Regions from separate parts of the Homo sapiens genome. Here all the other regions are reported to be linked to region 3. Evidence: microRNA targets listed by miRTarBase, many of them from high-throughput screens and not tested one by one. Region 3 holds a microRNA gene; each other region holds the end of a gene's coding sequence.
What was found. Region 3 holds the annotated microRNA hsa-miR-6894-5p (AGGAGGAUGGAGAGCUGGGCCAGA, at 1,692-1,715, shown strand). A microRNA usually pairs through its seed, bases 2 to 8, with sites in the 3' UTR of a target mRNA and lowers its output. Matches are read on the target gene's strand: a 7mer-m8 pairs with bases 2 to 8, a 7mer-A1 pairs with bases 2 to 7 and ends in A, and an 8mer does both.

Region 1 (3,000 bases), not on the chromosome of region 3:
TGCCCAGCAAAGGGTGTGAAGAAATCTTTTGTAAACTGTTTAATTTGTAGAGCTGTACACTTGGTATTTTATTCTAGTGTCAGTCAGATCTGTGCCAGGGATATTTCATGTTTAATTTCTGAATCATCTTGCTCTTGTGGTCCTTTTCTCTTTTGTTAAGTGTGTGGCCCACTTGGACTCCCAAGGCCGTTCCATTAATCCTCCAGCCCCTGCAAAGCCCTGATGCATATACCCCTCCCTACCCTGTGCCTACGCAGCTGCCCTGCGTTCTCCCACTTGCTCGGCCCAGCTAGGGCTGAGCTTCGTCTTGCTTGCTGCCTCCCCTCTTCGGGACTGGGCTGGCTGCCTCCTCAAGGCCCTGCCTGAATAAACGGCTCTTCCCTCTCTTTCCGGTACAGGACTCATTACCAGAGAAGCTGGCTGTGCATGAGAAGAATGTCCGCGAGTTTGATGCCTTTGTGGAAACCCTGCAGTAAAAGTATCCTTGAGTCCCAGCAGCACCCCCTTTTTGTGGCCCCAGGGCATAAGCAGCCTCCCATGCATCAGCTGCTCCCACCCCTCATCCTGCTCTGAGCCAGGTGGAAGGGAGGCTGGCTTCTCCCATGGGGACCCAGAAGTCCCTACTCTTGGACCTCCTGGAGACTCCGTGGCGGCAGTCAAGCCCAGTGCCCAGTTGGAGAAGACTCACGTGCTGGCCTTGGAGATGGGAAGAACCTTCGTACGAAAAAGCCCTCAGCAGGGCCATCTGTGTGCCCTGCCCATCACCAACTGCTTCCCAAGGGTGTCATCCTGTTCCTCCTGCTGCCGGCCTCCTGCCTGGGCCTGCCTTGCAGCTGGCCCCTTCCCTGCCTGCTGTCACCATCCACTGTTTGACATTCCAGCTGGTGGCCAAGAGATTGGTGTGGAGTCGCAGAAAGAGGAAGGAGACAGTGCCAGGAGGAAGAAGGAAGGAGTCCCTTAGCTCTCTTCATTGTCCCCTTTACTTCCTGCTATCTTCTTCTCCTCTTCTTCTCTCTCTTGCCTCTATGCCTGTATTTCTGGCAATATGACAGGCCTGCCTACCCAAGATCAGAACTCCAAAACCACTCCCACCCCTGAAGGTCGGGAGGGTCTGAGCAGCCCTGGTGGCTGCCTGTGCTCAGGTCCTCAGCTCCATGGGAAATAAAAATGGCACCCTGAATCTCTAGGATTTTGTCACTTGGAGTCACAGCAAAGTTCTCTTCCTCTTGTCCCCCCGTTGCTGCTCCTTGGTTATAGAACATGGTAAATATTTATTACTTTCAGAGAAACCAGATATTTTATAGAGGAAATATGTTTGAGGTGAGTTGTTTTTCACTTGGAGAAGGCGGAGGGCTCTTCCTGGGACGGAGACCTCCTCCTCCGGAGGTTATTGAGAATCCGGGCTGCTGCTTTGAGGATCTTCCCACCATACAGACAGCGAGATCCAAGAAGAGGGCTGGCCGGGGGCAAAGTCACCTCCCAGTGTGGCTGCACTGGAACTGACTAAAGGCTTTACCTTGGATAGTTGCGTATTCCTGGTGAGAGCCTTACATCTCCCACAGTTTCTGCAGAGTGACTGACTCCATTCTGGCAGCCCAGGAAGTCCTGGGTGCTAAATGTGATGGCCACATGTAGTGGTTAGGGGATGTTGTGTGTGTCCCCCAACTGCCTGGGTACTTGTTCCTGATCCCTGGGGCTGTCCTGTGGAGCTTTTCCTCCTGCTTGGGCCTAGCTACCATCTCCCTCTAATCCCAGGTTCTCTACACTGCCCTGGGGTTTACCAGCTGGATTGGCTTCTGGTTGAGAAATCAAAGCTGGGCGTATGATTGACTTAACCCTTCAGGTATTGTTACTTGAATAAGTCAAGTGCCTAGCCTCACCCACCTATGATCTGTCCTTTCCCAGCCTCGCTGGTAGTCCTGGTCAAGGAGATCTAGGTCTACTCCATTCCTCCTGGCCCACCTGGGGCATTCACTGGCAGCAGCTGTGCTTCAGTGGAGCAGGTGGTTCTCAGCTGCTTGTTAGTATACTGCATGTGACACTGTTCCCACATACAAGGCTGACTTCTGAGGATTGGAGCAGGCTCTGGCGGGGACCAGAGCTCTGCGTGCTGCTGCTGCCACCAAGAAGTGTTAGCAGAAGCAGTAGCAGCCAACTGGCCCTCCTGACTTTGGCCCAGAGCACATGCGTGGCTTGCTGAACCCAGGCTCAGGTTTATCCCCAAGGCCCCAGCTTTGAGAAGGGGGAAGGCCCCTGGTAAGTTATTGATGCCCCCATATTTCAGCTACTGCTCTCTTTCCAAGGCCTTGCATGGAAAGGCCTAGCCATTGTCTGAGGCAGCAATCTTTGGCATCTACAGGTGGCAGCAGCCTTTCACCAGGGCTCCATCTGTGAAGAGTCTCAGCCATGACTTTGAGCTGAGCTTGGGAGAAGTAAAGCAACTGTTAAGGCCAGCCCTTGCCCCTCAGACCTGCCATGAAAGGAATGAGCCCTAGACTGACTCCTGCAGCACCCCCGGGACAGGCTGGGACCAGCTGTTTGTCTCCAGGTGTCAGAGTCCCTCCTCCTCCTCCAACCTCTCCAACCTACTTTGTTTGGAAATACCGAGCTACACTTCAAAATGTATTCAAGGGATTTCCAATAAATTTTTTTCTGTACTTTACAGCCTCCTGTCCTGTAGGTTGTCTGAAGACCTCGTAACCCCTTCCCCACCCCTGCCCCAGTGCAGGTCTGGGAAAGGGGAGAGTGGTGCGTTGTGAAGCGCAGAAAGACCTCAAGTGTCTGGGCAAGCCTGTTTTGAGTCGGGTGTGGCCTCTTAGGGGCTGTATACCCTGGGGTTTCCTGGGTCAGGAAACTTCTTAGTATTTCTCTTTCCCTGGTCCCCTATCAGGGGCTTGAATTTGAATATTCAGTTGGAGAATGCATTTAAAATACACCCATAGTAAAATCTCCATAAAATGCAGGCCACCGTTATCAGCTCTTTATTGCTCTTACATAACA
Region 2 (3,000 bases), not on the chromosome of region 3:
TAGTAAATAATGAGAACAGGGAACTAAAAGGTAAAATTCATCTTTAAAACAGTAATTTATCAACTTTTAAACTAAGAGTGAGAAAGCTACCACAGACTGGCTTTTATGTAGTAATAAAAAGTTTAAAATCACTTACTGTCAGCATCTGTTTTTAAAAAATGAAATACTTACCAAACTATATGCAAAAAGTATTTGCATTAAAAGTTGCCAGCTTAATCATGGAAAATCTCTTATAAGGCTGCTTAAAGGTTCATGTTTTTTACTAAAAATGGTAGACTGTGAGAATGTGTAAAGTCAATTTTTGAACTACTAGTACTTTTTTTTTTTTTTTTTGGAGACCAGGTTTTACTGTTGCCCAGGCTGGAGTGCAGTGTCGTGATCTCAGTTCACTGCAGCCTCAACCTCCCAGGCTCAAGTGATCCTCCCAACTCAGCCTCCCAAGTAGCTGGGACTGCAGGCGCACGCCACCATGCCTGGCTAATTTTTGTATTTTTTATAGGGACAGGGTCTTGCCATGTTGCCCAGGCTAGTCTTGAACCTGGACTCAAGTGATCCTCCCACCTCGGCTGGGATTATAGCCATGCATCAAAGCAGCTTGGCCCTATTAGTACATTTTAATCAGAGATTAAACTATGTTGCATTTTAAATTTCAGTTTAAAAAAATGATTCACACGTTATACACAAGGACAATTTTAATCCTGCATTTTCCTGGAGTAACATCCACTGCTGGCTATCTATGGATTGTAACTGCATTTGCTAAGAACTGTGAACACAAAGAAACTTTACATGAAGTCACATGTTGATACAGGCACACAGACATCTTTCAGCAGCAACAGACTACATACATAACGCATACCAGATAGTCTCGATGGATAAATCTGCTTCACCAGTAATTCTATTTAGTAAAATCCACAGTTAATGGAGAATTCCATTTTTTAATTTTACATCTTTACTACACATTTTTCTAATACTTTATTTTTAAAAAACACTCATTCAAGATTGTAATTTGCATGGCGATAAACAAGGGTTCCATGGGTTCTAAGTTTCTTAAAAGTGTCCACAGCAACTTAAAACACCACAAGTCTTCTTTCCAATTTGCAGCACCTGACTTAAAGTTTAAATTCATCAAATACATCATTAAAACTGTCATTTTCTCTTGTGAGAAGACATGTTTCAATTGCTATTTCCAGGACTATATATTGAGCATGGGTGTACAGTACTTTTAACTGGTTAGCACAATTTTACTCACATAATTTATAGCCAGAATAAGAACCTCTAGCCTCTCTGAACGGCCTTCCACTCAGAGCAGATGATGACGATAAATGTCTAAAATGTATCTGGGGTACTCCACTTGACATTACCAAACATGCTTCCAAATAATCTTAGAAAATATGATTCTTTAAACATATGCATAATATTCTACCACACAATGCACCATCACTTCTTTAACCATTTCCCAATTGTTCATTTATAACATTTGCAATTTTTTATTATAAATAATATTGTGATGAATACTTTCATCCATAAGTTTTATGCAAGGCTGATTATTTCTTCTAATGTCTTCTAATGTCAAAGAAGTGGCTTACGGGTTCAAACAGCGCACATACATGGTTTTAAGGCTTTTAGTATACTTTACCAAATAATCTCCAGAATAGCTCAAACAACTCCTACCAACAGTTATGTTATTGTGCCCACAGGGTGGACTTCATAACAACACAGCAAATTCAACCACAGATCTATTAGATTCTCACCCATCTCAAAACTATCACATCAAAGAAGCAAGGAGACATATTACTGGTGAGGAAGCCAAATTCAAATTCTTTTAAAAAATCACTCAGCTTTAGATCAGTAAAATTATCAACAAAAATGCTCCCCACAAAAAGTCTACCGGGTTTTTCAAAAAATAAAGTTAAAAAGAGAGAAAGAGAAACTCAGGCTGGGTGCGGTGGCTCACATCTGTAATACCAGCACTTTGGGAGGCTGAGGTGGGCCAATCACGAGGTCAGGAGTTCGAGACCAGCCTGGCCAACATAGTGAAACCCCATCTCTACTAAAAATACAAAAATTAGCTGGGCGTGGTGGCGGGCGCCTGTAATCCCACCTACTTGGGAGGCTGAGGCAGGAGAATCACTTGAACCCGGGAGGCGGAGGTTGCAGTGAGCCGAGATCGCACCACTGCATTCCAGCCCAGGCAACAGTGCGAGACTCTGTCAAAAAAAAAAAAGAGAGAGAGAGAGAGAGAGAAAGTCAGTACCAAATGACCAAAATTTTTTATTTGACTAAATTCTATTCATGCATGAGCATGACAGTCTCCCGTTTATTTGACTTTGGCAATAAAAAAACAAGCAGCCTTGTACAGAACAGTGAAAATGCCAAGGACGAGGACAGTCTACAGTTTTACTGTAGAATATATATATATGTATACATATGTGTATATATGTATACATATATGTGTATATATGTATACATATATGTGTATGTATATATATATACATGTATACATACACACATGTATATATACATGTGTATATGTGTATACATACATATATGTGTATATATACATATATATGTGTATATATATATATATTTTAAAAGGCCTCTCTCCCTTTGGCCATATCAACTCTCAGTTCAGGCCATTAAATACAGACAAATTTTCAAATTCACTTCTTTACTTCTCCAAGATCTTCGATGCTGTCATCATCTACCTATAAAACACAAATAATTATATCTCATGAGTTGTGGTTGCAATTAAGAAAAAATGGAAGCAATTTGCTTTAAAAACTTATCTCTAGCGATGTATGTGTTCCATGCACTCACCTCTGGCCATTTTTCCTGAATGACATCAATTATGTCATCTGTAAAATCTCCCTGAATGATAATTTCATCCTCCCCTGTTACTGAGGCACCACAGGAGAATTTTTGAGCAAAAAATCTTTGTGCTTCTTTAAGATCAATTTCTATTTTTTTAAAAAAAGAAAGAGCAAGAACTGTAATTGGAAT
Region 3 (3,216 bases):
GGGAGAACTATAGCTACAGTAGTGTTGGAAGTCTGGGGCCTCTCAGTCGTGGTGTAAGTTGTTGAGTCCCTGGGCTTTTCCAGGCATCATTTTCTCACTCTGTTCAGTACTGTTATTAAATGATGGCCGTGTGGCTGTGCCAAGCTGTGGGAAGGAGCCAAAGCAAGGTGGGGAGAATAGACCTTCTCATCTTGACATTCAGAATTCTTCACACTTGGCCCTTACCTCAGAGAAGCATTCTGGACACCATAGTCTTGGAATCCTGTAAGAGATTGTATGTGTATTTAAGTATGTTTCTGGGAAGAGGACTTATAGTTTACATCCAATTCTCAGGAGTCTGTAGTCCAAAAAAACCCTAGAGACTTCATCCTTAGAATATTCTCTGGCTTTAGAGTCAAAATTAACTCAGTTTGGCAAGTTACTGACCCTGAGACTTAGTTTCTGCCTTAGTAAAATGAGATAGGCCTGTGGAATATATATTCTTATCTGAAAATTAGAGCTAATAACAGTAAATATTTGATGAACACTGAATCTAAGTGCTGAGATACTTGTCTGATTCCATAGCTGCTTTATTTTTGTTAATCCTCATAACAACCCAACAAGGATGATACTGTTTATCTCCATCTTACTAGATAATGAAACAGACCCAGAGACGTTAAATGATTTACTCATGATCACACAGCATATAAGTGGCAGAGTGGGATTTGGGCTCATAACTTATGCAGAGATTAGGTGTTAAAGTTGGTATGTAAGACAAAAACTGTTAAGAGTTGACATTTCCCATTAAAATCCCTAAAATTGCCCATTAGATATACACACTGGGTTGTCTCTCGATTACTCCAATATAGCCAGCTTTTCCTTCATTTTTGAAATGGATTGCTTTTTCTTTATCTGAGCAACAGATGAAGTCATTGGATTAGGTTTGGAAACCATATTGTTGGGAGAAAATTATTATATCTCTTTAAACCCTGAACACAAGCACATACGGTTGAATTTCTCTAAGTTATATATGTGCACAAGTATCTCCTGCCTACTAAGTGGCCAGCGTGGTGCCTGGAACACAGTGGGCTCTGAGTAACTGGAAGCCGATATTGTTCCCCAGTACACATAACTAGCCAGGCCTGTCCCTTGGCCACTTGCACTCATTGCCACCTCTCTGGTATCTTGGTCCACCACTTTCCTCACTTCTCACCCACAAGACCCTTTCTGCTGATCTGGATCTTACCTGATTTTTCTTCCTCTATAAAATTATCTGACTCAGCGCACACTGATCTTGCCCTGGTTTATCTGATTCCCCAAGCTTTGAGAGTCTAGACTTTACAAAGGGCAGGTATGCTCCCTGGGGTTTGGCCTCTTAAACCCCATGACCCTCAGCATAGATTTGAATCTAAAGTAGGGGTCGGTGGTGGCTGAGATGGAGGATTTTGCTACCTGGTTCTGGTTATATATAACGCATAGGTTAAATGCCCTTAGGGTATCACAGAGGCTGAGCGAGAGGCTTTCGAGCTGCTCCCAGATGATGAGCGCCAGTGTATCAAGTGCAAGACTACGTGTTTCCTGTCAGCCCTGGCCTGCTACGACTGCCCAGACGGCCTTGTCTGCCTTTCCCACATCAATGATCTCTGCAAGTGCTCCAGTAGCCGGCAGTACCTGCGGTGAGCATGGGCCTTTCTGGAGGAAGTGGGGCAAGAAGGAGGATGGAGAGCTGGGCCAGACATGCTCTTGCCTGCCCTCTTCCTCCAGGTATCGGTATACCTTGGATGAGCTTCCTGCCATGCTGCATAAGCTGAAGGTTCGGGCTGAGTCCTTTGACACCTGGGCCAACAAAGTGCGAGTGGCCCTGGAGGTGGAGGATGGGCGGAAGCGCAGTGAGTGATGGGGGGGATGGAGGGACTCCACAGGCAAGTTCTATTCCCTTTCTTCTGTACTCTGACCCCCTTCCTCTGCCTCTATTCAATACTGCCTACTCTTTGCTGCCCTCATTTTTCTTCCAGGCCTTGAAGAACTGAGGGCACTAGAGTCTGAAGCCCGTGAGCGGAGGTTTCCTAATAGTGAGCTGCTGCAGCAACTAAAGAACTGCCTGAGTGAGGCAGAGGCTTGCGTGTCCCGAGCTCTGGGACTGGTCAGCGGCCAGGAAGCTGGGTATGACAGCGTGAGGAGTTAGGGCACACATAAGGTGCTGAGGATCCAGCACCGAGGAAAAGTGCTGCAAGGGGTAGACTGTGAATACCATTTGGCAGAATGGACATCAGCAGGAAGCTGCCAGGCACAAGAGTGTGAGATGGCCTGGAAGGTGTTGGGGGGGACAAGGAGACCAGGCCACCTAAAAAGGAGAGGAGAGCCTCTGTGATAAGAAAGCTAGAAGTGTTTATTTTTTATCAGTACCTGGAAGTGGCCTGAGAGAGAGGCTGAGGGGTTTTGTGGGCAGGGAAGAGTTGTGGGAGGCTTACGGGTAAGAACAGGACAAAGATGTATAGACCTGATCCCTGCTAACACAGCTTTAGAGTTCACAGTAGAGGATGGATTGCAAAGTGTAGCTCTTATTACAACCCATTAGTTTCTAATTCTTTCCCCTCATAATATGAACATGCTCTATAATTTAAAACCTTCCCTCTAACCTGGGCAATTGGGGCAAATTTGAAATATGCGAGATCAAGGTGGACAGGTGTAGTGAGGAAAGGTGTTCAGTCTTAGCATAGACATGGAGGGAAGGCACTGAGTTTGGACCTGAAACCTCACATGTGATACTTCATAGCCCCCACAGGGTGGCTGGTCTACAGATGACCCTGACTGAGCTCCGGGCCTTTCTGGACCAGATGAACAACCTGCCTTGCGCCATGCACCAGATTGGGGATGTCAAGGTGAGGACGCTTGGAGTGCTGATGAGGGATCAAGGGGACCAGGGGACCTGAGCAGCAGGCCATGCTTGGCTCCTTTCAAAAGCTTAAAGTGTTCAGGCAAGACAGGACACACGTGTGAGAAAAGAACAGGTGGGAGGGGTGAGGCAAGGGTCTAGTGACTTGTCTGTTAGAAATGGGCCTTGAGGGTCAGGTGGCAAGGGTATGGGTATAGGATACAGAGTCCAGGTAAGGTTTCCTGGAGGAGGGGTAGAGGAGAAGGAGGTAACAGGGGTGCTTGTTGGGCTTGGAAAGTGGAGGGAAATTCATGAAGGTGGAGGAGGAGTGAGATGGAGAGGGCAACAGACCCCAGGGTGGT

Region 1: miRTarBase lists ATG13 as a target of hsa-miR-6894-5p. Seed matches in the 3' UTR shown: 7mer-A1 at 2,568-2,574.
Region 2: the mRNA of DENR is a reported target of hsa-miR-6894-5p. The part of its 3' UTR that is shown has no 7-base or 8-base seed match.

What each region holds. Positions count from the first base shown.
Region 1 is chr11:46,671,857-46,674,856 of GRCh38, forward strand. ATG13 (autophagy related 13) reads left to right here. Exons shown (of 19, transcript NM_001346311.2): 19 at 399-2,662. The coding sequence ends at 476. Among named protein-coding and RNA genes, the nearest start is that of ARHGAP1, 27 kb to the right of the region's middle.
Region 2 is chr12:122,768,739-122,771,738 of GRCh38, reverse strand. It overlaps DENR (density regulated re-initiation and release factor), which reads right to left. Exons shown (of 8, transcript NM_003677.5): 7 at 2,818-2,957; 8 at 675-2,705. The coding sequence ends at 2,661. Among named protein-coding and RNA genes, the nearest start is that of CCDC62, 4.3 kb to the left of the region's middle.
Region 3 is chrX:53,197,416-53,200,631 of GRCh38, reverse strand. It overlaps MIR6894 (microRNA 6894), which reads left to right and starts at 1,687; the gene lies at 1,687-1,743. It overlaps KDM5C (lysine demethylase 5C), which reads left to right. Exons shown (of 26, transcript NM_004187.5): 15 at 1,474-1,655; 16 at 1,744-1,868; 17 at 1,995-2,142; 18 at 2,756-2,861.